Linked DNA regions of Homo sapiens: all the other regions are linked to region 1. Evidence: fine-mapped expression QTL. A gene starts in region 1. Each other region holds a variant in brackets. All regions are shown on one strand. Distances are between the middles of the regions.

Region 1 (8,107 bases):
AAAGAAATTCACAGTGAGTCTGGTGGCAGGTGGGTTTACATGCCTTCGAGTAAGCTGAGGGGGCTGGGCCTTCAGGACTGAACTAAAGACCCCTCGGGCCAAAAGAGAGGACCCTCTTCCTGGCCTTGGCCACAACTCTCCATTGCTCACTCCTTAGAGTCAAAGTCAGGGCCTCTGTCAAAAAGGAACATGCTGCCTGGGATAAAGTGGCGTATTAACCCACCACCTGTCGCTAGAACCACATTGTAAAGGAAGCCCAGGGCAGTGGTCCCCAAACCTGGGTGTGCGGAAGAATCGCCTGAGGTAATCTTAAAAACGCCAGTTCTCGAGCCCTGCTTCCACCCTGGAGCCTGTGTTTTCTTTCACCAGATCTGAATTTTGATTCAGATGTTCCTAAGACAACTGTTTCAGGAAATAATGATATAGTGGAAAGAACACCAGATTTAGAGAGCTGGGTTTAAGATTTCAGCTCCAAACCTGAGCTGCTGACCTCAGGCAAGTAAGCCTCAACTTTCTTCCTGTACAAGGCAGATGCTGATGTCTCCCTTCTAGGTGGCTGGGAGGATTAAAAGAGAAACCACTGAAAGCCCCAAGCATTGCACACACCAGTGCTCACTAAGCATGGCCCCAGTGAGGCTAACAAGCCAGCGAGGCTGTGGGCACAGAAGTAAGTTTTGACAGGAGGAGGAAAAGAGAGCAAAACAGGCCTAGATGATGAAGGGGTGTCCCAGCCTCAGCACAGCGGTCCTGCGGAGGAGGAGTAAAATTGGGGGATCCCAAGAGGGGGCCAGAGGCAGCAAAGCAGCCTAAAGCCAGAGCTTCCCCTGAATCTTCTCCTCACCTGCGTCAGCCTGCATCATGTGTTGGCTTCCAGCATAACATTTTTAATCCATTTTCACAGCGAGGATATTCAACAAATACACATGAAACCTTTATATCTGCGCATAAGTAAACATCACGATTCTGCATACACACGCAAAGAAAAAGATGGGAAAACCAGAAAGAAGAGGAGAGAGAAGAGAAAAGTGAGATGAGGGGTCAAACCCAGGCAAATAGTCATGTGCTTTCAAGTGTGCTGGGGCCACTAACATGAGGACAGTGTGTTCCATGACCTGGAGAGGCCCAAGGAGGCTGCTCGGGGGAAACCTCAGAGTGGCTGGGGAGGCGAGGCTCATCCAGGCTGAACATAGAGCAGGCACAAAGAATGCAGGGAAGAGACACAGGAGTGTGTGCAAGAAAGGCTGGGTGGGATACACTGCCTGGCAAAATTTAGATCAGAAGAGGGGAAATCTGAATTTCTGAGCTGGGGATGGGAGGTGTGGGGAGGGCAGATAAGACCATGATAGAGACTGGGTGAGTGGAGGGATGGCCTTCAAGCAGGAAGGCGTTGGGATGGCTCTTGGATCAATAAAGTAGACTGGGATTAGGAAACATTTTAAATGCCCTGATGAAAAGTAACCTGGATTCAACCGTGTCCATACAGTACTTTCCTATCTTTCAGTCTTTCCTCGAGCTCTTTCCTCTGCTTGGCCTGTCCTCCCTCCCCACCAGCCTTTCCCATCTCCTTGAACTCCTCCTTAGGCTTCAAAGCCCAGTGGTAACTGCCCTAGCTCCTCCCATGCAGAATCAATTTCTCCCTCATTCGCATCTCCTTGATGTTTTGCACATCCCCCTTGTATTGCGGTTATTTCTTTACTTCCCTTTCTCCCCTGGGTGGTTATTTATCATCTGCTAGCCTGTGGACTCCCTGAAGGCAATGATATTGTCTTGTTCATAGCGTAAGCTCCAGCACATAGTAACAGTCCCTGGCACATAGTAACAGTCCCTGGCACATAGCAGACGCTCAGAAATATCTGTTGGAGATAAATTAAATAGAAGTGAATACTGGGGAGCCATTGTGATTTCTTGAGAGAAATGATGTGGTGAAATCAGAATTTCAGAAATATTAATCTATCAGCATGAAAGAAGATGGATTAAAATGAAGAAAGCAACTCGTGGCTGGGAGTCAAGAGGGGAGATTATTACTGTAATTTGGACATGGTTGAAGGTGGGGGCAGTGGGAATGGAGACAGGTAAATAATTCCTCAGATATCACAAAAGAATGTGGAAGAGATTTTGCGATGAATGAGCTATAAATGTGGGGGACAGAATGGGAGTGTTGGGAACATTTAAACATTGAGACTCCCAGCAATTAGGATAAAAGTGGTACCATGGAGAGAAATGTGGGGGATGGAGAAGACGGCAATACACAGCCTCTGTGTAGGATAACTGATTGCAATCTCCACAAGTTTTTCGAGGCAAAAACAAAAACAAACTCCAAGTCAAAAATCTCCCCACCCCTGATCTTCCTCCCAAACTCTGGGCTGTATTTTTCTTTCGCTAACAGCCAGTAAGAAATATTTCTTTATGGCATAGGAGACTAAAAAGAAGGTAATGCCAAGCTGGTGCCCCGCCCAGTGCTGGGCACAGAGGAGATCACATGAGTTCCACTGGCCAGCCTCCCCACAAGAAACCAACCCAGTTGCTTATTCAGAAGGGGCTCCAGTATCCTGATCACCCAAACTCATTTCCCAGGCCCAGACCTCTGGGAAATCCCTGCTCCAGCCCTGCAGAGATTTATAGGAAAGTCCCAGGACGCCCATCTGCTTGCTTCCTCACATTAATTTCAGGGCTAGGATTTTGTTTTCTAAAGGAATTCAACTATGATGCCAACAAAAATCTATAGGAATTGAAGAGTTCCGTATTTTAAGTCACATTTTTAAAATGTTTGCTTCTTTGTATATTGAGACCCAGTAAGACCCTAGTAAGCCCAGTTACTCCATCACCTCCAACAATATTAATCAAGTAGAAGACACGCGGATTTTAAAAGCTGTGTGATCCTTGAAAAATCTTCAGACTGTCAGGGGTCCTGGGTGCCTCCAACTGTGAAAGGAGGGTTGGACAAGGCGATTCCTTAGATCTCTCTCGGGTATCTATTTCTCTAATTCCAAATTCCAACAGGCATCCAATGATTGCTACCCACGTCCAAGCTTTAGACTCATAGCCCGAAAAGGGCGAAGCGCAGCGTGGTAGAGATCGCAAAGGAGACAGGAAGAGAAGCAAGCATGCACTTTTAGTAAGACGGCAAAGGAGGCTGGGAGGTACGGTGCTGGGTGCGGACTGCTTAAAAAACTTACTAGACCACAAATTCCAGATACTTAGGTGGGCCCGAGAACGCCCTAAAATCCCCTTCCCAAGTGAGGGCTGATGTTATTTCAAATAAAAAGAAAACTTAACTTCCAGATCTGTAGAGCTCCAAGGTGAGCTCGCTGTGCAAAAGCTACTTCTGTAAGTGCGCCAAGGGGCCGCAGGTACTTAGGCTGCACTTGAGGAAGTGTCCAGAGTTGGCGGAAACAACCCATCCACTCGGGCTCCAGGCGCTCGCTGGGTTGCAGCAACTAAACTGAGACAGACAGACACACAGATCCGAGGCCCCAGGCCAGGACTCAAGGAGCGCTGACCGAGACTTGCCCGGCTCTCGGGCCCCAGGCGGGAGGGAGGCGAGGCTGAGGTGGGGGGCGCACGGGCTGGGTGTGCACTCGCCGGTCCCCTCCGACCCGACCCGGGGAGCACGGGGCCCCGACCCGGGGACGACTGAGGTGGATTGTCCCTAGAGTTTAAGACTGTCCCTAGAGTCGAGGGTGGAGGGATGAGCGCCGGCGCCAGCACAGAGCAAGACTCCCAGCAAGGAAGAGAACCAGAGAAGGAGGCGCAGCCGTCCGCACGGACCAGGCGCGCGCTGGCTCCCCGAGCCCGGAGCGGCGCAGCCCGCGGCGCCCCGGACACACCCACTGGGTAGCCCGCGCCAGCCCGCCCCGCCGGCCAGAGAGCGGGAGCCGGAGCCTGGGCAGCGGAAGCCGGGTCGGGGCCGCGCGGGCGGCGCGCAGGGGACGCGGGGCGCGCGGCTCTGCTCACCTGGCGGTCCGCGTCCCGGAGCGACCGGCGGCCGCCTCGCCTCGCCTCGCCCCCGCGTGGTTCCCGGCGCCGGGCAGCCCCGAGCGCCGCCGCATGGACGGCCGCCACCGCCGCCCAGCCGCCCCGCGCCCGCCCTGCACGGGCTCCCGCTGTGCCCCGATTCCGCGTCGGGCTGCGCGGGCGGCCAGCGGTTCAGGCGCGCGCGGAGAGCTCTGGCTCAGAGTTTGCGATCCGAGAGCGGGATCCGCGCTCCCTCGGTCCTTCCTCCCTCCCCTCTTGCGGCCTCCCGCTGTCATCTGGAGCCGCTCCTGCCGCCCCCTGGCGGCGACCGCGGGAAGGGCCGGCCCCCATCCGCACCCCTGACCCCGGAGGTCAACAACGGGATGGTCCCTGGGTCCCAGGGGAAGAGACATCACCCAGTAGGAGGGAGTACGGTCTAGACAGAGGCCACGAGGGCGGGAGGGGGCGAGAGTGGAGAGTGGCCCAGCTGGCCAGGGTCGTCTAAGTGAGAGGAAAAGGGAGAGGGCGGTTGAGACCAGGCCCTGAATTCCGCGTTCATCTTATCCTGAGGTCTGTGGGGACCTGTTGAAGGACTGGGGCAGGGGACGGACGCGGGCATCCTTCCATTTGGAACAGCCATTCCGGCAGCATCAGGATGGGGCGGAGGCAAAGCGGGGAGTGGGCGAGGCAAGTGGTGCTGTAAACCTGTGCGAGAAGGGGGCGGTGACTCTAAGGGCAGGAAGGAGCCCTGGTCACACACACACTCCCACGCAAGGTAGGACGCGCTGGGCTCCTTCTGAGGCCAAGGGGAAAGGACAAGAGCCCTCCAAATTCCAACGGGGGTTAGACAGCATGGGGAGGAGACACACACACCCTGACGGCCAGAGCCGTTCGGGATTCTTTCTTGTCTTATTCAGAGTAATATTTTGTTGGGGAAAAAAAAGCCTGCTGCAAAAAAATAATAATTCTTCTCATTAGTAATGATAAAAATCAAACTTTGATCCCTTCATTTTACGAATTGGGAAATTATTGCCCCCAAAAGGGCATGACCAAAGTGACGCGTTTAGTTAATGGAGGGAAAATTGCTAGGGCCCCGTTTCTTGAGTCCTAATTCAGAGCCAAATTCTTTACATTCGAGCCAAGGTGTTCAGAGCTGGGAAGGCAGGAAATAGAGTGACTGTGAGGAACTGTCTCTTCTTTCCCCAGAGCAGGGAGGGGGTGACAAATATTTGAAGAGGCTGTCCAGATACAGGCGTTTCCCTAAATTTCAGTCAGCCTGTTTGTTTATCGCTGCCTCTAAAGCTTGCCTGCAGGGGTTGTTTTGAAAGTGCAGGTATACCGAGAGGACAATGAAGGAGGTGGCAGAATGCAAGCTCCCTGCCCCAGAGCCAGGCAGCACCAGGGCTGGGTGCAGAGCGCTTCGTGGGAGCAGAAGGGAGCTCCCAGGGAAGATTGTCCTCCAGAAAAAAAAAAAAATTAACAAAAGGGAAAGAGGCTACTCAAGAGATTAGGCCAAAGAAAGAAACACCATTTTGAGCACCGACTACTGGCCCGGAGCCTGGCAGAGCCAGTTCTGATTGATTCAAGAGCTGGTTCCAATGGGATGAAATAATTCCACACTTGATCAAACAGATTTTGATGGGAGGCACCTGGTGTAAATGGGATTAGATTAATTCTGAGTGTCACGAGTCTCATGGGTCCAAATTAAGTCGATCTAACAGCTCTAGTAAATACTGGCCAGTTTAAACCATTTAGAACTGATTTAAAAAAAAAAACCTGCGCAACTTTAGAATGTACTTAATGTCACTGAATTATACACTTAAAAATGGTTAAAATGGAAATTTTTATGTTATGTACATTTTACCATAATTTTAAAAAAGCAAAACTAATAAGATTTGTTCAAACAAGATTGATTTATTCATTCATTCGAGACAGGTATTCAGTGCCGAGTGTGGCCTTGGTGCTAGGATTCAAAGAGGAAAGGAAGAAAACTTTCCATTCTAAAAGAAACTCCACGTGAGGCGAAGAAGATGAAATATAGTCAGAAAACCATACCAGTAGGTGGTAGGTAAATGCAGAAGTATTTAAGAGCTCATACAGGAGTACCTGCCTCAGGACAGGGAATCTGAGATGCTCTGCAGAGCTGGATCTTAAAGAACGGAGTGAGTTCATCACATAATGTCTGGGGCGAACAGGGCTCAGGAGCAAAGGATGTGGTTTTGTTTGTTATTTTTTAATTTTGAAATAATTTTAGACAAGTTTCACAAATAGTACAAAGAATCCCCTTATATCCCCCACCCTCTTCCTCTAATGTTAACATCCGACATAACCAAAGTATGATTATTAGTGAGCAAACTTGATTCGACAGACCTAGGCTGGCTCCTTAGAAGTGATTCCAGTCCATTTTCAACCTTGGTCAAATTGTTTTGACCATATTTTGCTTATATGTCACAAGAAAGTCTCTTTCTTTAAAGTCAAGATAATACTTGTTTTATTTGTTTATTTATTTTGAGAGAGTGTCTTGCTCTGTCACCCAGGCTGGGGTGCAGTGGCATGATTGCAGCTCACTGCAGGCTCCACCTCCTGGGCTCAAGCAATCCTCTCACTGCGGCCTCCCAGGTAGCTGAGACTACAGGCGTGCGCCACCACATTTGACTAATTTTTTTTTCATTTTTTATTTTTAGTAGAAAGGAGGTATTGCTGTGTTGCCCAGGCTGGTCTCAAACTCCTGAGCTCAAGTGATCCTCCGTTCTTGGCCTCCCAAAGTGCTGAGATTACAGGCGTGAGCCACAGAGACCAGCCTATACTCATTTTAAACAAAGAGATATTTACATTATGTGTAAGCATCAGTGAATATTAAGTATGCTAAGACAGCAAGTTTTAATCTTTCAGTCCTGTTATATTTCTGCTTTTATCCAAATGTGTCTGTCACGTATGAATCAGAAGAGCAGAATGTGGTCCTTGCATATAAAATAGCTTACTGACCCTCACCGAAAGAGAGAGCCAAGAATATGTGCTTCAGATCACAGTCAAAGGCTAGCCTGTGCTTACCTAGGCTGGGGGCCTGCCTGGCATGTCAGTGTCAGCTATACACAGCATCTTGGAGGGTGGGTCACCCCTTTGCATATCTGATGTGGTGAGCTACTCACTACCTCATAAAATAGCCACATTGTTCTTAGAGGCTCTTTGTTAGAAATTCCCTTTTAATTTTGACTTGAAACCTTTTGCCCTGTAATTATTATCCACTGGCCCTAGAGGCAGCTCCTAAAGGGACAGACAAGAAACATAACTCTTCTGTCATGTGTCAGTTCTGTCTATGTAAGACAGCTCTAGCTTACACCTGTTGTCCTATTATAATTATTAATTAATTATTAATAGTACCCCCCTTCATTCTCTTGTCCTAGTTAAGTTGATAAATGATGCATACGACATCCTATAGAAGACTGTCACCACCCCACCTCACTGATCAGCCCTCTGCCTACAGCCACACCCACAGAACATTCAGCCATTTCTCCTGTGGTTCCCAGCCTGCAGCACAGCGTCTGCACGTGGTGAGGGCTCCCAAATCTCTGAGGAATGAATGGCTCACTGCTGAGAGCAACCTTCTGGGAGTTCAGGGCATGTGGAACTGGAATAAGAGCAACGTGTGAACAGATTACAGGAAGGCAATGCAGGACAGCTGGACCCTTTGGGGGGAAACTTATGGGGAACACAGTTTTCTTACTTATAAGCACTGAGATTGCCTGAGAGGGGAGAGATGATGCAGAGTGTCCCAAATGTATTTGACGTGGAATCCTTTTACCAGCGAAACATCTCTTGGGCCTAGAGTTCTGAAAATTGCACTTTGAAAAACACTGCTCTCAGCTCTTACAAACCTCGTGTTTTCATCCTAACTGTGCTTCAGAGAATTGTGTCCCAGCAGGAAAGGAAACCCCCGTATAATTCCCTACGTTGCTAGCATTTGGAAGTGGGATGAAAATGGACCTACATTCAAACCCCTAATTTCAAGCTCTGAAGGAGGTACCAGGATCCATCACGATGCTTGTAAAATTGTTCCTTTCATTTTCCTGGTTGTAAACTTATGCAGACTGTAAAGTCAAGGCAAGCCTGTGCCCAGCAAATAATAAGAAAATAAGGGAGGCATGGTAAACAA
Region 2 (8,107 bases), 510 kb before region 1:
GGGGATCCCCAGAGCTGGGAGAGACCCTCCTGGAAGGGCCTTAGTCTTTGTGAAGCTCGCTCTTTCCTGGACAGCCCAGACTGTCATTACCATTCCAGAAACAATGCAGTGAAGGTCGCTGTGCCATATCCTTACAGACTTCATGCTTGAATAGATGGGGAAAAACCTTTCTCTGTCTTCAGAGAAGGGAACTGTGCTTTGTATTCTATTGCACAGTCATGCTCAGAGCACTCACACCTCTTTAATTATATAAAGAAAGTTTTTGAGGAAAGCATGACAAGAAACCCCAAAATTGGGGGTAAAATATAAACAAATGTTTTGGCTGATGTACTGCACATTTTTTAATCACAAAGTGTGTTTTCAGAGTATACTGAGCCCTGCCTAGAATGGCTCAAATTAAAGATCAAAGGCAGTGCCGTGACGAGACAGAGCAGAGCTCTGTGCCAATTTAGCATCCCCGTTTCCCCTCCCTGGAATAGCCATGTGGTCATCCATTTGCCTAAGAAGTGCTTGTCTGAAGCACCAGTTAAGACAGCAAGCATTGATTAAAGGAGAATTTTCTGTTTTTTGTCTGTTTGTTTTCTTTTTTTACTGGGGGACTTTAGAGTGTAGTTAGATAGCAACAAATTTTAAAAAAGAAAGAACATGATTGAGAGCCAGCTTACAAAGACATAAGTTTGATGCTTGGAAAGTGGAAAATGTCAAGAGATTCCAACTAGAGACAGGAGGAGCAAAGCCGGCCAAGAGAGACAGAGGCCCCTCTCTGAGCACACAAGGGCCTGGCCACGTGGCTTGCGGGTACAAAGGCGCCTCCAAGGGTTCCAGAGCCAAGCCATCACTACCTTACAGCCAGAGTAACCCGAGGAAATAGGCTCCTGAGAGCTGAGGTTGCAAACCACGCATCCCAAATGAGAAAAAAGTATAGAAAAGCAGGGCTATCAGCTACATATAGGATGGATTTGATTTGGGATGGGGGCAAGGGAGGTAAATAAACAAAGAGAAGCTTACAGGGAGGCTGAGGCAACAATGTAGGTATGGGATGTGGAGTGGGGTGTGGGGAGGTAGAAGACGCAAGTCTACCCAACATCACAAAAGAACAACCAGGGGGCCTGAGCATCTCTTTATGTGTCACATCCTCTAGAGCTGAGTTCTCAAGAAACTACAAATGGAAAATGTGATGGAGAGTGACTGAGGAGGACGCTTTAGCTGGGATAGTTAGGGCGGGTGATATCTGAGTGTGGCCTGAAAGACACAGGGAACACGGAGGCCCAGCAGCTGCGGAAAGGCCCTCAGGGTCCCACTGGCTCTTCTGTCTTGAAGCAGGGTCCACACTGCCAGGTCTCTCAACAGTGCTTGATGCAAAAGGGTTTGGGTCTCCTCTACTGTCTGGCCGCCCTGCCCCCTAGATGAGGCCCAGTTTGTTGCAATCCACATTGAGATAAGGCTGGGAGACCTGAAGGCTGTCAGTTGTCCAGCTTCAGCCTTACTGGGCAGACAGTGCGGGTCTCTACTGCCAGTTCAGTATGCTGCTGTTCATGCAGAGGGAGCCCCCATGAGTTTTCTGGCCGTTCCACTACATTGTTTATTCAGATTGAGCCAACCCGGTGACAGATTGGATGTAGAGGCTGACAGAGTGAGAAAAGTCAGGGTGTTTCAAGGGTCTGGTAAGTTACAAACGTAACCAAACCCCGTGATAACTGTTTTGCTTTAGACACACACCACTAGATTATAAAACTGCCTTGTTTATCTTCGCATCGCAAGTGTCTAGAACAGTCTCCAGCTCACCATAGGCACTCAATAAATATTAGTTAGATGGCTGGATGACCAACCATATTTCTGTCACTGCCAGCCTCATTCTGCCTGTTTCCCGGGGATGCCTGGCTGGTGCCTCAGCAGGACAAGCAGCAGTTGTGAGTCAAGGTGGGGGCTTCCCAAACTTGCATGGATTTTCTGTTTTCTCACCTGGGGAAGAGTCACCAAATTCATCTGTAATCAAAGACTCTTGAACGTCTCCATCAAGATCAAGATTCGATTCTCAAAGTGTATTGACACCCTTGTTACGCAAAGTGTCACCTGCAAACTAACAGCATCAACATTGCCTGGGAGTTGTTAAAAATGCAGAACCTCAGGCTTCACCCTAAACCTCCTGAAGAGGAATCTGCATTTTAACCAGATCCCAAGGGGACTCGTGTATGCGTCCCAAAGGGTGAGCAGCCCTGGTCTCTGCCAAATGGGCTGAGACCTGGTGCACCTTGCTTCAAATTCCCGTTCTGCTCCTTGATTGCTGCGCCACCTTGGATAAGTTAATTTCTCTGATCTCTGGTGTCTTCATATTTAATATGAGAATAAATAATGCATAGGGTTGCTATGAAACATGAGGAAGTGTGAACATAAAACTATCCAGTTAAGAAGGTTTCAAGTAAGGCTGTGTGTCATTCTCAGCCTTTCCTTTTTTACCCCCTTGTTAATGAAATTAAGATGATCCAAGGCTTCTGCTCCTCTGTCAATGGAATCCTCCCTCCTTTCAAAGCTCTCTCCTTTTCAACCCTGAGTGTATCCTAGAATCACTTTGAAGGCTTTGAAAAGCTACCGATGCCCAGGCCTTACCCACAGGACTCTGACTGACTTGGGCTGGCACAGGCCTGGCCATGATAACTTGTTGAATGTTTCCCAGGTGATCCTACTGTGTGCCCATGACTCTGGGGCACCCAAACTCTGCCACTTACCTAAGGGTAAGAGAATGCTTAGCTGGAATATGGAAGGGCCCAGCGAACGTTTATCAGGTTGTCCATATGTGAACCTTTCTAAAGCTTTGTCTTCCTGAAAACATAGTCTGCTGGTAACCCCCACATGAAGTTCCTGTTCATTGTGAAAACCAAATTTCTGCCTTGACCCAGGAGATGCTCTGCTTGAAACCACCATATAATTAAACTCTTCAGTGACAAATGACTCACAGCTCAACTGGAAAAAATCTCTCCTTACTCTGAACCAAAATCTTCCTCTCCCCTGCCCTATTGTACAATACCCTGAAAATAATCTGTAATTCTCATTCCATGGGGATTCTTAATTTATAAGAAGAGAAATATTTTTCCCCTACTGTCATTTCCAGCTCAGATCCAACAGGCGGTCCTCATATGAGATTTCTGGACCCCTATAACCTTGGTCAAACTCCTCTGAAGGCAAGTAACTGGTTATTTGATACCCATGTGTCCTTCTAAAAGCTAAACCTACTTCTCATCTAGTGAAGGGGCTGCCATTTACAGCCAATGGTGTTGTGGTACGGCCTGAGCTTGTGCAAGCTCAGATTCTCTGAGGAAAGTCATTTCAGTAGCACTGGCCCTTTGATGCCTGGGGCTCAAGTCACTGATCAAAAGCCAATGCCATGATTCAGCCCTACTGGCCCTGTCACAGATGAAGATGTCGGAGAGGTGACATACTACACAAACCCATATGAGCTGAACATCTTCCTCTTGAGGTTCCCTCCTTAGGATGGATGAATAGAACACACTGATCAGAGAAGGAACATTTAACTCCCCTTCACACAGACATCTATTCTGACAGTCCTCTGCCCAGCAATGGGATAGCTCTCCTTTCCCTTTCTGTAACCTCAGGACATGTTCCTTTTCTTCCATGAACACCTAAAAAAAAAGAGTGTCAAAACCAACACAAAAGAAACAGAAAATGTATACAGACAAATCTCCATGGACTAAATTCATATAACAGAGAATCTTCCTATGTCCTACCTCCCTTCCTCAAATATTAGACGTAGACAGTTTTATGGGTAAGTTCTATCAAACATTCAAGGAGCAGATAA[T/A]TCCCACTTTACAAGTTGTTTCTGAGTACAGAAAAAGAAGGAAAGCTGCCCATCTCATTTAATGACATAGTATGTCCTTGATTCCAGAGCTAGATAAGAACAGTGAAAGCAGAGAAAATAACACGTCAATGCTACCTATTTTGAAATGTCATGATCTTGAGTAAAACACTAGATAATGAAATCCAGTGGTATGTTAATGTGGTAATGCGTTATAATCAGATGATTTTTATCACAGAAGGTAAGGATAGTACAAAATCGGATAAAATCTCTAAATGTAATTCATTCCATCATTGGTACTACAGAAGAAAAATCATATGGGAATCTCAAAAGATGCAATTTAAATAAAGCATCTTTTGATGCTTTAAAAATCTGTTAAAGTTCAATGCATATTTAGTGTAAAAATTCTTAGAAAAACTTAGACACAGAAGGGCACATTATGAATCTGAAAATGGTTTCTACCAGAACCTACCTCCACAGAAACCACCACTCTCAAAAGAGAAAATTTAATACACATTCCACTGAGGGTCTGGAAGAAGACAAAGATGCCCACAGTCACCATGTTGTTCAATAAGATATAAGTGCAATAACACACAGGAAGGAAATAAGAAGTATTAGTGCTGGAAAACATGAGAAAAGGTTGCCATTGTTTGCAGATGTTGTTTTTCTTACTTAGAAAACCGAATAAAATCCAACAACTCTGAGAATTAGAGAGTACCAAAAGATTGCAAGTTACAAGATACCATAAATTGTACGTCTCTATAACCAACAATAACCAACCACAAAAAGAATGCAAAATAACATACTCTTCACAATAGCACCAAACATTATGAATTACTTAGAAATTAAGCTCACAAACACTGTATAAGATCTTTGTAGAAAAATGTATAAAAATCCTCTAAAAGGACGTAAAAGAAGATCTAAATAACTGGAGAGATGTGCCACAATTTTGAATGACAAAACCATATTTGATTTACCCATTTCTAATCCTGCAGAGTCCTCCAGGAAGTCTTCCGTGACTCTCTAAACAGGATTATGGACTGCCAGTCTGTGCTATCCCAGCTGCTGTGCCCCTCTCTACCTTAGCAATCTATCACCTCTTAGTCTCCACCCCCTCCACCCTGGAATTGTGAGCTCCCTGAGCAGACTAAATTTTCCTCATCCTGCACTCCTAGCATTGAGCACAGTGCTTGGAATATAGTTACTGCTAATTAATACTTATTGCATGAATGAATAAAAGAGACCAATGCTTGTTTGCATGGTCCCACTTATTTGCTATTTGTCAAGATAAACACAAGGACCACTTTCATCTAAGAGTAATGGATATGGGAATGACAGTAACCAAGAAGACCTAAGAATCTTAGAGATTTATCATAGTCTCTAGTACCCAACTCTGTCCTTTGTCCTCCTGTTTTTCTCTTTTATTTGAGTGCAGAATTTTTCAAACTTCTCCTCACCTTCTTTCTCATTTCTACATGGTACTCCTCAGTTCCTCAAGAAGCTCTTTCTTTGAGATTTAGTCTCTTGAAGAGCCCCCAATATACTCAACAGGCAATCTCATCTCCAAGAACCCTGTAGAATAGATGGATTTATCAAAGGTCTTCACTGGCCCAGGCTGTGGCTGGTGGCTCACACCTGTAATCCCAGCACTTTGGGAGGCCAAGGCGGGTGGATCACCTGAGGTCAGGAGTTCAAGACTAGCCAGGCCAACATGGTGAAACCCCATCTCTACTAAAAATACAAAAATTAGCCGGGGGGTGGTAGTGCATATCTGCAGTCCTGGCTACTTGGGAGGCTGAGGCAGGAGAATCACTTGAACCTGGAGGCAAAGGGTGCAGTGAGCTAAGATGGCACCACTGTACTCCAGCCTGGGAAACAGAGCAAGACTCCATCTCAAACAAACAAACAAACAAACAAACAAAACAACAACAAAACAAGCTCTTCACTGGCCCACTAGAAAAAAATAAGTATGCCTGGATCCCATCCCAGCCACCAGGAATCAGATTCTTTAGGAGGTGAAGTCCAGGTGTACATGTATGCCCAATATCTGTCAAGATCAATGACAGTATAATGGATTGCTCACCAGATGATCCTAGCACAGGACATCTTTCACATGGCTTTCTCTGCAGGCAAGGCTGACAGGGTCTTTTTGCTGGGCTTGAAGGATGACTTCATGCCACCATATGAGTTGGATTCCTGGCCAATGACAACAGTCCATGGCCTTCTTTAGACTGAAGCAAAAAGCCAGACTAGACTTCCACTTGAACAAGGCATCATAAAAAAAAGAGGGCAGGTGTGAAAACAGGATTGGATTTACACATTAACACCAAATGAGTCCAAAACACAGGGTTTCAATTAAGCCACACACAAAATGCCTTCCATATTGATTACTTTCATCAAGAACTAAGGCTGTCACTCCATGGCAAAGAAATATACTGGCAGATTTATTGGACATTTCCTCCCCACCAAAAACTACTTTTACAGGAAAGTATTCCCCAAAAATGTGATTTAAAGTGTTTACAAATTGAAGATTAAATAATTCAAATATATAACATGTTCATCTATTTTGTTGTTGTGGATGCTGTGGTATGCAGTCCGGATTCCTTTCAGGACTGAGGCTGGAGACTCAGAGCTGAATCCCCCACATAGGACTGCTTTGCTCAAGTGTTCTCACTGGGGGCAGCTGGTATCCACTGATTGGGTGATGGAGGGGCATAAAGGCCCTGTCCCATTGCTTCTATTGGGACAACTCTGAAAGGTCATTGTGGCTCCAGAACTCCCTGTAGGATATGTTAAGTTATCTGTTGGACCTGATCATTCTTGCAGCCCTTACCCTTCACGTGTTGTTCTCGATCACTCTCCCTAGTAGACCTCCTGCAGACAAATCTCAAAGTCTGTTTCCCAGGGAAGCCAATCCATGACATCTGTCTGGTTCATGAATTAATTCACTGTTGTAAGACTTGATTATCTGATTAGATTTTTTTTTTTTTTTTTCTTGAGAGGGAGTTTTGCTCTTGGCATCCAAGCTGGAGGGCAATGGCGCCATCTCGGCTCACTGCAACCTCCACCTCCCAGGTTCAAGTGACTGTCCTGCCTCAGCCTCCTAGGTAGGTGGGATTACAGGTGCCCGCCACCATGCCTGGCTAATTTTTGTATTTTTAGTAGAGATGGGGTGTCACCACGTTGGCCAGGCTGATTTTGAGCTCCTGACCTCAGGTGATCCCGCCCACCTCGGCCTCTCAAGTGCTGGGATTACAGGCGTGAGCCACTGCTTCCGGCCGATTCTCTGATTAGATTTTAAACTTTTTTGATGAAATATTGAGTCTTAACTACTTTAAGATGCCATAATACTGAATACAGTGCTAAGCAAAATAAATATTGACTAGTTCTCATTTCTATCTTTCAAATATTTCTAATGCTCCTCTTTTATAGCATGGGCTCAGGTATCAGATGGCGTAGGTCAAGATCTTGGCTCTACTGTTTACTTACGGGAAATACTTTTATGTTGCTAAATCTCAGTTTTCTCTTCTGTAAGACGGGATTAAAGTACTTCTTTCATAAGGCTATTGTGATGATTAAAGAGTATAATCTATGTAAAGCATTTCGCACAATGCCTGGCACATAAACATTCAATAAATGGTAGTTGTTGTCATTAATGGCATAACACTGGCACCACTCTGGTAACCTTAGTTATTGTCTTAATCATCACTTTGCTCCTTGATTATTATAATAGAAATTGGTGTTCCTAACACTCAGTTTTCCTCTTCATTACCCCTTCCCTCCAATTCTTTCCAGTGGCACCAAATTAATTTTCTTAAAATATGGCTTTTATTACATTTTCCTCTGCTCAATATTTTTCAGGGACTCCTGATTACCGAGACCTCCATCAACTGGCACTGCTGGAGCCATCCAACCAGCACTGCAACAGAAAAGACTCCTCTTCCTTGTCCTTGGAACATGGCTCACTCTGGCTTGCTCTTATTTTCTTTATCAATCCAAATCCTGCCCAGCTCAATGTAGATCCCATTGAACAAATCTCCCCTCAATCTAGGTCCATAGCTACCTCTGCCTATCCTGAGCCTTCACTTACCCTAACAGTATCCTGCATTTCCAATACTGTATGATCAAAGGTCTCCCTAAACTTCTAGCTTTCCCTCAGGCTTCATAACTGACTTAAAAATCTCCCTTGATAAACTCTTCATCAGGACTTCCTACAAAAATTGCTATTCTGAGCTTCTCCATTGGTCCTTAGCTGCTTTTCACATCATTAAAATTTACAAAAAGAGGGTAATAAAA
Region 3 (8,107 bases), 210 kb before region 1:
ACTCCCCACTTCCCCCATAAATGCCTGCTCTGAAAGCCAAAACTCAGAATGCCCCTCCCAAGACCCTTTCAGCCTAGAGACTCCAGAGAAAGGAAGCTCACACTCTTGGGCTGAGCTGCTAATGCCTGCAATGCACCTGCTTTTCTAGCCACAAGTGGCTCTTTATGCCCCCACCTCGTGGGCAGCAAAAAGGGAAGATGTCCTTCTCACCTAAGCATCCCAGCCTCCCCATAGGAACAGCACTATTAGGGAGGCCTAAAAGGGGGGAATACCCAAATGGAGTCTAGGTGAGCTAGACCAGATACCAAGCTTAAAGGCAGAGGTGTCCGATCTTCCCTGGGCCACACTGGAATAAGAATTGTCTGGGGCCACACATAAAATACACTAACACTAACAATAGCTGATGAACTAAAAAAAAAAAAAAAATGTAAAAAAATCTCAATGTTTTAAGAAAGTTTACAAATTTACATTCCGTCTTGAGCCACATGTGGCCCACAAGACACGGGTTGGACAAGCTTGTTTAAAGGGCTCAGCTTGCAGTTAATGAATTCATCACTCAAATATTTGGCGAGTACTCTCTGCATATCAGGCATAATTCTAGGTATGGCAAAAGAGAGAGAGAGACGTCTGCTGTCAGGTTGAATGGTCCCTATCTTAAGCCTGTGACAGCAATCGGGCCATAAAATGTTAACATCACAAGACTTCAACCGGGGTTCAAATCCGAGGCATGCTGCAGTCTAACTTTGTGACCTTGGGTACCTGACTTCCCTGTTAAGGGAAGGATTAAATTAAGGGGCAAATTTGAAGGCCAGGAGCAGAGTCCTTTTCTCCTTCTAGGATTCCTGATTCCATGTCTAGTTTACTCCTTCTGCATTTTACAGCCAAGAATATACACACAGACACGTACCCATGTACACACATACATCATCCTTTAAGTAAGACTTACCATACATTCATCTCTTATCCTTATAGCCGTCTGGCAGTGTAGGTATTTGTGGTACCCATGAGAATCAATGCTCTTCGCAGACCTCCAACTACAGGCAATGAAATTGACCAACGGCTCCAGCTGCTGTGCTCTGAAATCCATCACTGTAGCTGTGTGGGCACCAGACTGCACTTCTCATGGGCTGATTCCAGAGGCAATAGCGGAACCCAGCAGGGGTACTGAGACAAACCTATTCCTGGGAGACATGGGACTCCTCTGACAGCTGAGTTTGGCTGCAGGACTCCCTGATGGCATTGTGGACCCTCCTTGGCAATCTAGGACCCTTCCCTACAACTGCCCCTTCTTCTTTCCTTCAGTAGAGATCAGACTTGCATTGCTATCTGACCATTCTCCTAACCTGTTTCTTTTAATAAAATCCTTGAATGTACAGTCCTGTCTTGATGTCTGCTTCCTGGAAGATGCTGACAAACAGAATTTTATCATGTCTGTATTACAGATGAAAAAGCTGAAGTTCAAGGGACAAGTAGGCAGTCCAATGTCACGGGGTGGGGAGGGGGGGGCAAGGAATGCATTGTAATTCAATATTAGCTATTTGTGAATCAAAATGCCACAGAGGCCTCCCATTCCCTCCACAAAAAGTCCTGGAGATGGGCCCTGAGGTGTTCCCTGTGAAGCAGTATGCCTTTCTCCATTTCCCTAGGTCCTACAACTCATTAGTGGTGGGCCAAGAGCAAAGCCTAGGTTTTCAGCATCTAAATCAGGGGTTCCTCCTCCCGGCCCACCATGCTCTGGGGGCCAGACTGCAGAGCAATCCCAGCTAGAGTGAAGCTCTGCAGCTCACCCCGCCCCATGGTGCCTGTGGAGCCACAGCAGGTTTTTGCATTTAGTAAGTGTGTTTGGAGACAATCATTTCATAAAAGTTAATCTGTTCTGGGCTGGAGCCAGCTGAGACTGATAACTCCAAGTCTCCCCAAATGAGAACTTCAAATGCAAAGTCACATTTCTTCCCAGTGATCTTGGCCGCCTGAGACCTGACTACCTTCAGAGGAAACCAGGCATTCATGTATCCACATCCAAATTTTCTTGGCCTATCCCAGTTGGAGATTTCAGAGCTGCTTCTTCAATGCCAGAAGAAGTACGAGGAAGGGCAGCCGCCCCTCTGTCACCATCACAAGCCAAACACACTCCATCTGTACCTAGGTGGCTGGGGAGACGCCCAAACAGCACCTCAGGAAAACTAATCAACACTGTCCAAATGGCTGCAGCAGAAAACTAGAAGGGGAGACAAACAGCTTTGCCAGCCAAAGGCCACTGAGAGGAGCGCAGGAGAAATGAGCTCAACGCTCTGTCTACACCCGGGAGCCACACAGGTGGGAGAGCAAATTAGCACAGCCTCCCTCCTTCCTCGACAAGGCCAGATCGCCAGTGGCACCCGGTAAACGGGTTAGTGTCCATGTCACTCAAACCTCTGCTCTGTGTGTAGACTGGTGTCTGTTTTATTTGAAATTACTTACCAACCTAGTCGCTCTCTTACTCTTGGCAACCAACAGAGCGATGGACTGGTGACAGCAGCAGCAGAGGCAGAGAGAGAAAGTGAGAAAAAAATGAGTGGGTTTATATGACAGTATTGTACATCAGAAGGAACAAAGCATAGGACTGTTCTCTTCACCTGGGTCCTGGAAGAATTGAGAGGGGCAGGAAGGAAAGCGCTAACAGTTATTGAGGGGTTTACTGCATGCCAGACACTGCTAATGGATTTACATGCCTTATGTCATCTAATCCTCATAGTAACTATAGAAAGCTGATACTATTGTTATTACTTCCATTTTACAGAAGAAGAAACTGAAGTTCAGAATGGCGAAGCAACTTCCCCAAGGCTTCCCAACGAATCACAATCCTGGCCTGGATTTTAGCAGAGTTAGTGTAATTTGAGAGCATCCTCTACTGACGATGATACACAATTCCCCATGTTTGTTGAATACCTACCGTGTGCTGCGTGTTTTAATTAATGACAACTGCATGCCATTCTTAGAATAGCTTTAGAAAGTACATGTCATACCCATTTCTGAGGAGTGGGGACTGAGACTCAAAGATGAATTTAACAAAGGTCCTATAGCTAGGAAGTGGGGGAGCTCAGATTGAAAGCACATCTGAGTGACTCCACAAGACCACAAGGCCCTCCTCATAGGCACACCCAGGGCAGCTCCCACCCCTCCTCGTTTGGCCCAGGAGGGCACAACAATAAACAATACTAGAACAATCATGGTGGTCTTTTTTTTTTTTTTCCTTTGGAGACGAGGTCTTGCTCTGTGGCCCAGTTTAGATTGTGCAATGGTGCTATCACAGCTCACCGCAGCCTCGACCTCCCAGGCTCAAGCAATCCTCCCACTTCATCCTCCCTAGTTGCTGGGACCACAGGCACGTGCCACTATGCCTGCCTAATTTTTTATTTTTTGTACAGATGAAGTTTCACCATGTTGCCCAGGCTGGTCTCAAACTCATGGGCTCAAGAGATTCACCCACCTTGGCCTCCTAAAGTGCTGGGATTATAGGCGTGAGCCACCACGCCCAGCCCATAGCAATAATGGAACACTGCCTGAGTTATTTTCAATGTGCTAAGCACCCTTCATTTTATTGTTACCACAGCCCTGTCTGTGAGTGAGTGGCTTGACCTCAATTTCACGATGAGTAATTCGAGGCTTACAAGGGCAGGGCACACAAGTCACCTGAGCAGAGCTGGCGTCTCGGGAATGTCCAGCATACTGCCTGAGACATGACATCTCACAGGGGACAACATCGACTCCGTCCTCTCCTTTCCACTCAACAGACATTCGCCTTTTGGCTGAAGAAACTCTCTAATGCAAGTTGTTAAGGAGGCAGCAAAGGACGTTTCAGGGTTTCATTCTAAGCAGGTTTCCCTAAAAGAACCTTCTAGAAGTTATAAGCAGTGTGGGTCACTCAAAGGTCTGGCAACCTTTCTCTCCAACTTGAACTTTCCTCAGGCTGAAGCCTCCCACATTCTGCCGCAGACATCTCAGGAAACGTCTCTGTCCTTTCAAGTCCGTGAGATTCCAGCCGAGGCCTGACCTCACACTCAGCCTGGCCCGCTCCCTGTCGCCAGGCAGCCAGTTCCTTGTTTTTCCTCCCATAATGATGGATACAACCTGTCAGGAAAGCTGGGAATATT[C/T]TTAGCTCCTAACTGATTTTTATCTAAATTTAACTCTGAGCCACAGCACAGCACAAGCAGACTTGCATCCAGAGGGCAGCCAACATTTTCATGGCGACACATCACAACGGAGGCTTGGTATTTCTCAGATGCCCTGGCTTGGCTTGAAGCTAAAATAAGACAAATGGCTCTTTAGGAAAAAAATCTTGATCTTGTAGTACTAGAACCATCAGACTGTAGAGTTGGAGAGAAACTTAGATTTATCCAGCCTCATTCTACAGATCAGGAAACTGAGGCCCAGCAAGCACGGGCCACTTGAACCGCAAAGCTTGGTCTTGCTTTTTTCACAATACCACATTGCCTCTAAGGAACACAATGAGCAAATTAGATGGGACATCTGCAGAGGGCCATAACTTTTTATTTTGTAAATCATAAAATCAAATGTTCTGGGTCATGCAGCTAAAGCTGGTTGAACCCTGATCTCTAGTAAACAGCACCAACTGTCTGATTCAGCACATTTAATAAGCCCATGGAAAGTGGACTTTTTCCAAGGTTCAGAGTCTAAAAAAAGTTCCAACTGAAACAATTCAGCAAGTCATTCTCTCTCGCTAGAATGCTGGCTCCTGGAGAGGGGGGCATTATCAGTTTGATTCACTGTTCTATCTCTGAAGCCTGGAATCGCACCTGGAACATAGTGGATGCTTGATAAATATATATTGAATGGCAGACTGAATGAATTAATGAACGAATGAACAAATGAATAATTAGGAGGAACAGAACCATTAGGCCTGAATGACTGCTTGTAGGAAAGGGAGGGCAAAGCCACCAGCAAAATAAAGTGAGATTGTGCTTTTCCATTCTTCACCCACCAAGCTATGCAGCAATCGATGTCTTCTAGGAATTAGATAAAAGGTTTTGCGTGGCCATACAATAAAATGCAGATGGAGATCCCCAAGTGGCCACTATCATTCACACGGAAGGCTTGACTGAAGATTGGACTCAAAAGAAAAAGAAATAGAGGAACAATAAAAACAAGAAGCACGAAAATACGGTGTCCCAGTCGGGACCATGACCCAGAGGGTCACCATGGTTCTCCCAGCAGAATGCAGCAGTGAACTACAAGCCTCGCCTCTGAGCCAAGGTTTGAGAAAGGAGGACACGGCCTATTGTAATGGAGGAAAGAAGGTGGCTTTACTTTTGTCCCATTCCTTACCTTAGTAAGTTTGTGGGAAAAGAGGCCATCATTGCTACAGTATGTTTAATTGAAAAATCACCATTCTTGCACAGACCCGGCTGAATTAATACATTCTGAGGCTCAAATGGTATCAGGTGTCCTAGGCCCTACATTGTTAACACATTTATTTTTGCAAGCAGGTCACTATATATAAATACAAAAGGTTGTGTTTGTGTATATTTGAAGGCACATGATATGGGGAGTAGGGTGAAGCAAAAGGGGCAAGAGAAAAATCAAGATTTATAAAAAAGAAATCCAAATACAGCTTTATGCATTGAATGCCATATACATTCAGCATTGTGCTTTAAACAATTTTTTTTTCCACAGTGGGTGGGGGGTGACAAGAAGGGAATGGGGGTTTCTAAAAGAAAGGAAATGGCATTCAAAAAGTAAATAAAACAGAATTCTTGACTTCTTAGAGCTTTAACTTATTAGGAAGACAAACGCAATGAAACTTTCATAGACAAAATAAATATTATACATATTAAAACATAATAAGGCATTAGTGAATTGGTTTTATAAAGTGTGTGGTTCAGGGAGTCCCAAGAAAGGAAGTTCTAGGTGGGTCAGGTCAGTCAGGGAAGGCTTCCCAAGGGAGGTTCCAGAACCTGGTGGAAGGCGGCTAAGGTTTAGCTGACAGGAGCTGTTTGAAACTGTAGGCCGGTGGCAGGACAGTGTGAGCCCCTCCATAACTATGGGAATTTATGTATTTCACAGGGGAGAAAAGGCCACCATGAACAATTAAAAGAAGGAATGGAATGAAGTGGTCTATTGGAGTGTTTGAGCTGGTTTTTTGTTTTGTTTTTCAGATGGAGTCTCGCTCAGCCACCCAGGCTGGAGTGCAGTGGTGTGACCTCGGCTCACCACAACCACTGCCTCCTGGGTTCAAGCGATTCTCCCGTCTCAGAATCCCGAGTAGCTCGGATTACAGGCACCCAACATCATGCCTAGCTAATTTTTGTATTTTAGTAGAGACAAGGTTTCACCATGTTGGTCAGGCTAGTCTTGAACTCCCGGCCTCAGGTGACCCACCCACCTCGGCCTCCCAAAGCGCTAGGATTACAGGCGTGAGCCACCATGCTCGGCCTGTTTGCTTTTTAGAGACAGGGTCTCGCTCTGGCATCCAAACTTCAGTGCAGTGGTATAATCATATCTCACTGCAGCCTCAATCTTGGGCTCAAGTGATCCTCCCACTTCAGCCTCTTGAGTAACTGGGATAACAAGCATGTGCCACCACACCCAGCTAATATATATATATATATATATATATATTTTTTTTTTTTTTTTTTTTTTTTTTTTGAGATGGAATCTTGCTCTGTTGCCCAGGCTGGAGTGCAGTGGCGTGATCTCGGCTCACTGCAACCTCCACCTCCCAGGTTCAAACAATTCTCCTGCCTCATCCTGAGTAGCTGGGATTATAGGTGTGTGCCACCACACCTGGCTGATTTTTGTATTTTTAGTAGAGACGGGGTTTCACCGTGTTGGCCAGGCTGTTCTCAAACTCCTGACCTCAGGCGATCCACCCGCCTTGGCCTCCCAAAGTGCTGGGATTACAGGCATGAGCCACCCTGCCCGGCCACCACCACTATCACCGTTATCATCACCACCACTATCATCATCACCACCACCATTTTCTGAGTGTTCACTCTGGACCAGCAACACTCTGGTTGTTACTGACATTAAGCCCTTGACATGTAGTTTACTCATTGACCCCTCACAACTACCCTGTAGAGTATGTATCATTTTTTATCTCCACATTGTGAACGAGGAAACCAAAGCTTGGAGGGTTAAATCACTTGTTCTAGGTCACATTAGTGGCCAAGTCTGGGTTCAAACCATTTCTTTCTTTCTCTCACGCCATCTACTTCGTGCTATACCCAACTGACTAAATTCTGCTCCTGGCAGCTTTGCAGAATAGTTATATGGAATTATTAAGTAGATGTTCTTGCTCTACTCGAATGCAACATTTATCACAGAGGTGGAAATTGTTAGAGGATTTCCCATAATGTATTTTACATGCATATTATTAGAATTACTCAGGGGTGAGGAAAAAAAAGTTCCCAGGAAAAATATTTGGGCTTTTTTGGTTCTGGTTTTGATGTTATCATAACCTATAGGTGTCCCCTGGACAAACTATCTAGAGTTCTTGGAGTTTTTTTGTTATTGTTTAATTAGTGTCATACATAAAAGTCAAATGGGCTCTAATTTAGCATTTCCTCTGACTAATCTCTGACCTGGGCTTGGCATTTCAATAGCTGAGCCTCAATCACAAGAGGTTCGAAAAAAAATTCCTAAGCAGTCAGTACTGACAGTCCATTGCACAAATGTGGAAATTGAGGTTTGCAATAATCACAAATCATGTAACCTTGTACTCTGACTTGAATTCCAGGGAGGACTGTGACTGTGACATATCCCAGTTTTGAACTCCCTTAGAACATTAGCTGGACATTTCTGGTATCCAGGTTCCTTGCATCCTTTTCATCCCCACACTTGCCTCCTTCCTTCCACTGGGCTGTCAGCTCTACATACATGCAGACAAAATCAGTTTCTTGGCCATCTCTCTATCACCAGTGTCAGCTTCAGGACTGGTTGGCACTGGGTAAGTACTCAGAGACTGTTGAACTGAGGAATAAAGAGAAAGCTGATGGTCTTGCAATGGAAGGAAAAGGAGGATAGCATACTGGAGGTTACAGATAACAGTCTCATTTTTCTGGATGAGAGATATGATTCCTGTACATGTATGAGGAGTTTCTTGCAACAT
Region 4 (8,107 bases), 180 kb before region 1:
AGTTTAAAAAGCTGAACCCTGCCTAGAATATGTGCTGAGGAATTTAGTGAGAAAAGTGATGAGAAACTTCTATAAATACAGCATTTGATCCAAAAACATCAACCAAGCCAATCCTTCACAATCAGCAATCAAACTATCTCAAGTTCCCAGCTGTCCCTATGTGGCTTTGAAAGCCCCTGAACGTTAAGAAAACCTAACCAGAAGAGAAACTACTATTTTCCAGAACTCCTTCCAAGGAGGGCTCTGTAAATGGTTGCAAGTCCTCTGATAAGGGGGCCTTTGGTCATGACAACCACAGAGGTATGCCTGAGTGACAGGAGAGGTTCATCAAAATGCCTTCTGCTTTCTTCCCCTTAAACACATTATTTTTTTGTTTCTTGGTGAAGGGGTGTGGTTGCTAAACTGTTCTTTTTTAAAAAACTAATTTTATATTTAAATTTATTTTATTTTTTTAAGAGACAAGGTCTTGCTCTGTTGCCACACTGGAGTCAGTGGCGCAGTCATAGCTTACTGCAGTCTCAAAACCCTGAGCTCAAGCAGTTCTCCCACCTCAGCCTCCTGGGTCACTGGGACCACAGATGCCTGCCACCACCCATGGCTAATATATATATATATATATATATATATTTTTTTTTTTTTTTTTGGTAGAGACAGGGTCTCATTATGATGCCCAGGCTGTTCTGAAACTCCTGGCCTCAAACAATCCTGCCTGGGCCTCCCAAATTGCTGGGATTACAAGTGTGAGCTATCACGTCCAGCCCAATGTTATTTTTAATTGACAAATAAGAAATGTATGAATTTTATGGGGTACAATATGTGTTATGGCACATGTATACATTGCAAAATGATTAAATCAGGCAAATTAACATACCCATCACCTAAGATACTTATCATTTCTTAGTGATAAGGACAATTGAAGTCTACTCTTTTAGTAATTTTGAAATATATGTTATTAACTGTAGTCATGATGCTGTGCAATAGATCACTAGAACTTATTCCTTCTAACTGAAACTTTGTACCCTTTGACTAACAGCTCCCTCTTCCCCATTATAGCCACCATTCTACTCTCTGCTTCTATGAACTGAACTCTTTAGATTTCACATACAAGTGAGATAATGCAGTATTTGTCTTCTTCTGCCTGGCTTATTTCACTTAGCATAAAGTCCTCTACATTCACGCATGCTGTCACAAAGCACATTGTTTTTCTTTTGCTCAATGCAGCCTGCAAGTTTCAGAGCAGAGGTGAAATACCCAGAACAGAGGAGTGGCTGCCTCCAGTGGTCTTCCTTTCTCCCCTTTCTCCTAGCACAGCTTCTTCTCTAAACAGTGTAAATAGTTGAATATCGAAGCATCCACAATTCTTAACTTGCTGCTATGAAGAAACCAAGAATTTTAAACTAAAACTGCAAATGGCTTAAGTTTTAAAACTTCAAAATATATTAAAACATTTAGATGAGTACCATCAACAGTCATGTTACCTCATTCCCGCCTCTTTTAATGGTCATTCTGCTATGTGGTTATTGTTCCTCCTGTCCAACTCAGTAAGATAAAGGCGACTCAGACTAGAGACTCATGAAATAACAGGGCAGAACCTGAGATCACCAGGCAGGTGCTGAGGGTGTACCAGGGACTCAACAACAAAGGTTCTGCTTCTCCAGCCATTGAGGTGATTGAAATAAAAGGTCAGCACTGGGCTGTGTGCACGGCTCACGCCTGTAATCCTGGCACTTTGGGAGGCCGAGGCCGGTGGATTGCCCAAGCTCAGGAGTTCGAGACCAGCCTGGGCAACAGAGTAAAACCCCGTCTCTACTAAAATACAAAAAATTAGCCGGGTGTGGCGGCGTGTGCCTGTAGTCCCAGCTACTCAGGAGGCTGAGGCAGGAGAATTGCTTGAACCCAGGAGGCAGAGATTGCAGTGAGCCGAGATCGCACCACTGCACTCGAGCCTGAGCAACAGAGCAAGACTCTGCCTCAAAAAAAAAAAAAAAAAAAAAAGTCAGCACATATCCAGGGGTCAGTCTCAGTCTCACAGAAGGAGGGAAATATCTAAGGGGGGGACTAGAAGAGAAGAAATAAAGCCTCATCTGGTGGAAAAAGAATAGAGACACCAGATATGTATAGCTAATTTTACAGTATACATAGCTGATACCCCGGTCTAGTAGCAAAATAACAGTGGGATGGCTGGTTAATAACAGAAGGAGGCCTTTAAAAAGAAGAACAAAGTTGGAAGACTTACATTTCCTGATATAAAATGTGCTACAAAGCTACAGTAATGAAGACAGTGTGGTGTTATTGTAAGGTCAGACATATAGATTAATGAAATAGAATTGAGAGTCCAGAGAAATCCTTGTATCTATGATCAGTTGATTTTGGATAAAGGTACCAAGACCATTCAAAGGGACATAGTCCCTTCAACAAATCATGCTGGGACAACTGAATAGCCCCTCCAAAAAATGAAGTTAGAACCCTACCTTACACCATATACAAAAATTAACTCAAAATGAATCAAAGACCTAAATTTAAGTGCTAAAATTATAAAACTCTTAGAAGAAAACACAAGGGTAAATCTTTACATCCTTAGATTTGGGCAATGAATTCTTAGATACGACACCAAAAATATGAGCAACGAAAGGAAAAAAACAGATAAACCATCAAAATAAAAATTTTTGTGCATCAAAGGACTATCAAGAAAGTGAAAAGACAAATGGCAGAATGGGAAAATGTTTGCAAATTATATATCTGATAAGGTTCCAGTATCCAGAACACACAAAAAAACTCTCAAAACTGAACAACAAAAAGACATACAACCCAATTTAAAAATAGGCAAAAGAGCAGGGTGCAGTCGTGTGCAGCTGTAGTCCCAGCTACTTGAGAGGCTGAGGTGGAAGGATTGCTTAAGTCCAGAAGGTGGAATCCAGCCTGGGCAACATAGTGAGACCACCCTACTGTCTTTAAAAAGGAGGAGGAAAAGGCCGAGCGTGGTAGCTCACGTCTGTAATCCCAGCACTTTGGGAGGCCAAGGCAGGCGGATCACAAGGTCAGGAGTTCAAGACCAGCCTGACCAACATGGTGAAACCCTGTCTCTACTAAGAATACAAAAATTAGCCAGGCATGGGGGCACGTGCCTGTAATCCCAGCTACTCAGGAGGCTGGGGCAGGAGAATCACTTGAACCTGGGAGGCAGAGGTTGCAGTGAGCTGAGATTGCGCCACTGCACTCCAGTCTGGGTTACAGAGCGAGATTCCGTCTCAGAAACAAACAAACAAACAAACAAACAAACAAAAAAAAGAAGAGGAGAGCAAAGGACTTGAATAAATATTTTTCTGCAAATAAGATATATGAATGGCCAATAAGCACACAAAAACATGAAAAGAAGCTCAACATCATTAGCCATTCAAGAAATGCAAATCAGAACCACAATGAATACCACTTCACACCCACTACTAGGATGGATATAATTAAAAAAAAATAAATAACAAGGATGTGAAGGAAATGGGTTAATATTATGCTATGTGAATTTCACCTCATTAAAAACAATAGAAGACATATAAATGGGCAATAAGCTCATGAAAAGATGTATAATAATGGAAGCAGGGATGGGGCAGAAACAGCCAAAAGAAAGAAAAGAGCACTGAGGTCCATTACAGTAGCATTTCACAGGTTATCTCATTTAATCCTTTCAAGAGACTTCATGATGTCGATGTTATTAATCTCATTTTGCAGATGAGAAAACAGAGGCTCGGAGCAATTAAAAATCTAGTTATAGCTAATAAATGGCAGGGTCGGGATGAGGCTTCTCAACAAGTTACCAAAATGACTGCAACCAAGATTATAACTTAAAGGAATACGACGTTTTCAGATGCACTGAAAACTGGACCCTTGATTTTATGGCACTTTTACAATGTGATAACACATAAAAACCTGTGATAAAATTTTATGTCCATGAAGCCAGGGACACAAAGCCTTGGCCAGTGTGGAGGATAATGCAGGACAGGTGCTGCGCAGAGTTATGCACGCTGCTTGGCCAACTCCCTCAGCCCTGCTCTGCGTACTGATTCTCTGATCCAAAGACAAACACCCAGAGAGACTTGGCAGGAAGGTGCGTCTTGCCCGAGAGGCACAGACTAATAGAGACAACAGGCCTTAGGGAGGCTTCAGAGGTCATCCGGTCTTAGTGGGCCGAAACACATATCCACGAACCAGATGTATCTGAATTACCTGGGGAGCTCATAAAATGCAGATTCCTGGGCCCCATGCCAGACCTCAGGTGGGTAGGGCACAGAAATGACAATTTTTAAAAAGCTCTCCAGAGGGTAACCCTTATCTATTGTTGATGGGAATGTAAAATGGTACAGACACTTTGGGAAACAGTTTGGCTATTTCCTGAAAAGTTACACATAAGAGTTACCATTTGACCCAGTAATTCCACTTCTAGGTATATACGCAAGAGAAATGAAAACATACGCCCTCACAAAAATGTGTCCATGAATGTTCTAAGCAGCATCATTCATGACTCATCAACTGGATCAAATATCCATCAACTGATAAGTAGATAAATAACATGTGACATATCATACAATTGCCATATTATTGAGCAATAGAAAGGAATAGGCTATCAATACATGCTACAGTATTAATGAACCTCAAGTATGTTATATTAAGTAACAGAAGCCAGATGCAAGAGACCACACAGTGCATGATTCTATTTATGTGAAACATCCAGAAAAGGTAAATCTACAGGGGCAGAAAGTACATAGCTTACTTGTTGCCTAGGGCAGGGAGTGGGAGTGGATGGGGATATTACTGACATGATAAAAATGTTCTAATACTGATTTATGCTGATAGTTGCACAACTTGGTAAACTTACTAAAA[C/A]TCATTGATTGTAAAATGTGACTCAATAGAGCTGGCTTTTTTTTTTTAAAGAAAATGTCCCCAGGTGATTCTGACGTTCCAGCAGATTTGAGAACCACTGAATTCCAATATACTTACTGTGCAATGAGGAACCTGAAACCCAGAGAGGGAAATGATTCACCCAGAGTCACAAAGTGAGTTCATACAGAGCCAGATTGCCTCTGATCTGTGTCTCCACAAAAGGAAATGGAACGCTAGGAGATGACCTGATGAAATTAACCAAAGGGGACTGCCAATCTCAATGAGTCAGTCCCCATTAAACCCTTTTCCCCCTTAACTCGCAGGAAGCTGGTTTGTTTTGCCTGACTGAACCAGGAAAGGGGCTCAGGAAGCAGCTGTAGGCCAGTGAAAGGACTACAGGCTTGGAGTCAGAAGGCCTGGGTTCAAACTTGGCCTTGAGAGTTCATCGTGATCCTGGGCCAGTCACTTCACTTCCTAGGGACTCATCTGGTTCATCCATCTGTAAACAAAGCCGATCATATCACCCTCCCAGGATCACTGCAGGACCAGTAAGGAAGATATTGAGTAATCCAGGTAGGAGATGATTTCCTTCCTGCCTAATCTGAAACCACAGATGTCCAGCCCAATCTGTTTATCTTAAGGCTACAACCAGAGCATCCCTTCCAGCCTGCAGGGCACTCACATTCCCTGACGCAAGCGCCACTCACCCACCCCAATCTTGGACCCAGTCCCAGCTTGATCCCAGTTCCCAGGTGCCATAAAACTCTGGAAAGGTGGAAACAAGACTGTATTTTTTTTTTTTTTTTTTACAGCTGTGAGAACTGCAGACTGAGAACAATAAGTATTTTTAAAATAACAACCTTCCGAGTGACCACCGACGCATCAAATACTGGATTGGGCGTGGTGTTATTATAAGACCAAGAGAATGTAAAACATCCTGTAACATATCTTAGTAGAAGATCTTTGCCAAGGGAAAGAAATCTGTCTTCTATCTAAGAGGAATGTTTGGTAATCGTTTGGGCCTTGGATAAACTCAGGCCATACGTCTTGGGCCAGGCATTTACATTATGGACTAATCATAGAGCCCTGCAGTGAATATAGACATTGTGGAGTAAGAGTAGGTTACCGAGATGGTCATGGCAGCTTTGACACTCACAGAGACATGCAGCCTGTGTCCGGATGGGGAACATTCAGGCCAAGACCCTTTCTTAAAAGGAAAAATGTGAACGCTGGTATCCCCTGAACGGACCCCATCTAAGTGGATCCTGAACTCCCAGCCTGTGCCATCAGATAAGAATGTCAACATGGCAGAGGGCGAAGGTAAGAAGGGACCCGTCCAACTCAGCCTGCTTGGGTCACATTTTGTTTGCTTTATCAGGTCCAAGAGAAATCTGACTTCTTTGAGGGACCTGTGGGTGTCATTCACAGGGACTCCTGGTAACTGAGCTAGACAGTGAAAAACAGGCATTCTCTGTAAAAGGGCACTTGGGACTGACAAGAAGACAGAAGAAACAGAAGCTCGCCACTCATGACAGCAGCACAGGCGTAGGCTTGGAGAAAGAAAGATGAACTTGAGAGCCTTTGGTTCAGAGAGGTGTTACAGACTTGCTGAAAATGTAACTCCAAGCAGCAGCAGAAGATAAATGAGAACAGAAGGAGCTAGAAGGGAAATGGACTAAAGCAGGAAAAATACAAAGAAAAGCAAAGGCTAGGAGATCAAACATCTAAAACAATACTAGCAAACACATAGCACATGTACTGCAAGTGCCCTGCCCCAGGATTCACGGTGGTCTCACACCCTTCAGGGACCCCCCAGGCAGCCACTGGGAGGGACTGTTTCATGTGCACCTCCCAGGCCTGAAGCAAAAGCCTAGACTTTCCACTTCCAGTTAAACATGGAAGAGTGACCATCTTACACCTCCTCTCCCTTCCAAAACCCTACTAAATTTCCTACTGTTAGGGAATTTTAAAACGTTTTAACCTATGAGGACAAAGCAAAAAGAGAGGAGATATCCACAAATAAAGATTTCAGCAAACTTGGAGAAAAGTAGAGGAAAGCGTTGTAATTGAGTGTAAGTTGCAAACATTCATATCCACTGTGGAGGAAACTTGAGAACAAAGCCATCTGGACTGACAGACACCCCAGTAGCCCAGCCCTCGGAGGCACAGGAACCATGAAAGATGAGGCTCTGGTTCATGATGGAAAACTGAGCTACTAAGCCCATGTTATGCAGCCAGGCTACTACGTAACCCCCATGCTCCTCCCCAAGCAGGGGAGAGGTTTACTCTTCAGAGAAACTGAGAAGGGGCTGCAGACCCAGGAAACAGGCACCATGGAGAACAGAGCTCAGGGCAAGGGGCACCCAGAACACCAACCACACGTCCACCTCCACAGGCAGGAGATTCAAGGGTTCTTCTCTGGAGAAAACCAACCACCTGAGAGGAAAACCATCTACATAATGACAGTTGTGTGCAGGGTTCCAACAAAAAAAGATAGCTCAAAATCTGTTCTCCTAAAGAAAAGCTCATCAACCAACTACCCCACCTATGCATGCTGAGCTGCACGGCACAGGGCATCTGCAGCACATGCACGTAGAACTTTCGACCTGTCCAATATGGATATACTCTAAAAGCTGACAGCCATCTGGGGAAAGCCCCTGACAAGAAAGGCAGGGTTAACACAAACACAAAAAGAACTTGGAGGTGAGGGGATAGGCAGGGAAAATAAAAAGAACTTCAAAAGTCCTGTTATATTTGGCCAGGTGCGGTGGCTCATGCCCGTAATCCCAGCACTTTGGGAGGCCAAGATGGGCGGATCACAAGGTCAGGAGATCAAGACCATCCTGGCTAACACAGTGAAACCCTGTCTCTACTAAAAATACAAAAAATCAGCCGGGCGTGGTGGTGGGTGCCTGTAGTCCCAGCTACTCGGGAGGCTGAGGCAGGAGAATGGTGTGAACCCGGGAGGCGGAGCTTGCAGTGAGCTGAGATCGCACCACTGTGCTCCAGCCTGGGCGACAGAGCAAGACTCCGTCTCAAAAAAAAAAAAAAAAAAATCCTGTTATATTCTTAAAGAATGTTAATTAAAGTATGTTAAGATAGTGCATCCATGAAACAAGAACAGAATGCTATGTGAAGGAAATAATCAGAAACTAGAAAGGTCTTAGAAATTACATGGTCATAAAAATTAAAGAATTCAACAGAGAATTTAGAAGACAGTCGAGCAAATACCACA

Which allele goes with the higher level. Positions count from the first base shown, and alleles are read on the strand shown. Sizes are in standard deviations (SD) of each study's normalised expression. Not every link is listed here.
As copies of T replace A in region 2, the expression in esophagus mucosa of the gene that starts at base 4,182 in region 1 goes up (small effect, 0.33 SD a copy in GTEx).

What was found.
Region 2: its variant is fine-mapped to the expression of THSD4 in esophagus mucosa (GTEx, PIP 0.94).
Region 3: its variant is fine-mapped to the expression of THSD4 in lung (TOPMed, PIP 0.97).
Region 4: its variant is fine-mapped to the expression of THSD4 in fibroblasts (GTEx, PIP 0.93).

The regions. Positions count from the first base shown.
Region 1 is chr15:71,111,546-71,119,652 of GRCh38, reverse strand. It overlaps THSD4 (thrombospondin type 1 domain containing 4), which reads right to left and starts at 4,182. Exons shown (of 18, transcript NM_024817.3): 1 at 3,955-4,182. CT62 (cancer/testis associated 62) reads left to right here and starts at 4,149. Exons shown (of 4, transcript NR_168260.1): 1 at 4,149-4,729; 2 at 5,890-6,022; 3 at 7,359-7,505. RefSeq lists silencers at 3,789-3,878, 4,029-4,168, 4,199-4,258, 4,105-4,282, 4,319-4,368.
Region 2 is chr15:71,622,625-71,630,731 of GRCh38, reverse strand. All of the region lies in intron 7 of THSD4 (thrombospondin type 1 domain containing 4), which reads right to left. Among named protein-coding and RNA genes, the nearest start is that of THSD4-AS2, 65 kb to the left of the region's middle. The variant T/A (reference allele first, on the strand shown) is at 3,815.
Region 3 is chr15:71,325,212-71,333,318 of GRCh38, reverse strand. All of the region lies in intron 6 of THSD4 (thrombospondin type 1 domain containing 4), which reads right to left. Among named protein-coding and RNA genes, the nearest start is that of THSD4-AS1, 140 kb to the right of the region's middle. The variant C/T (reference allele first, on the strand shown) is at 4,134.
Region 4 is chr15:71,292,497-71,300,603 of GRCh38, reverse strand. The region is part of intron 6 of THSD4 (thrombospondin type 1 domain containing 4); the gene reads right to left. It overlaps LOC124903520 (a long non-coding RNA gene), which reads left to right. Exons shown (of 2, transcript XR_007064700.1): 1 at 1-5,445; 2 at 5,685-8,107. Among named protein-coding and RNA genes, the nearest start is that of THSD4-AS1, 110 kb to the right of the region's middle. RefSeq lists a silencer at 5,000-5,294 and an enhancer at 4,544-5,743. The variant C/A (reference allele first, on the strand shown) is at 4,873.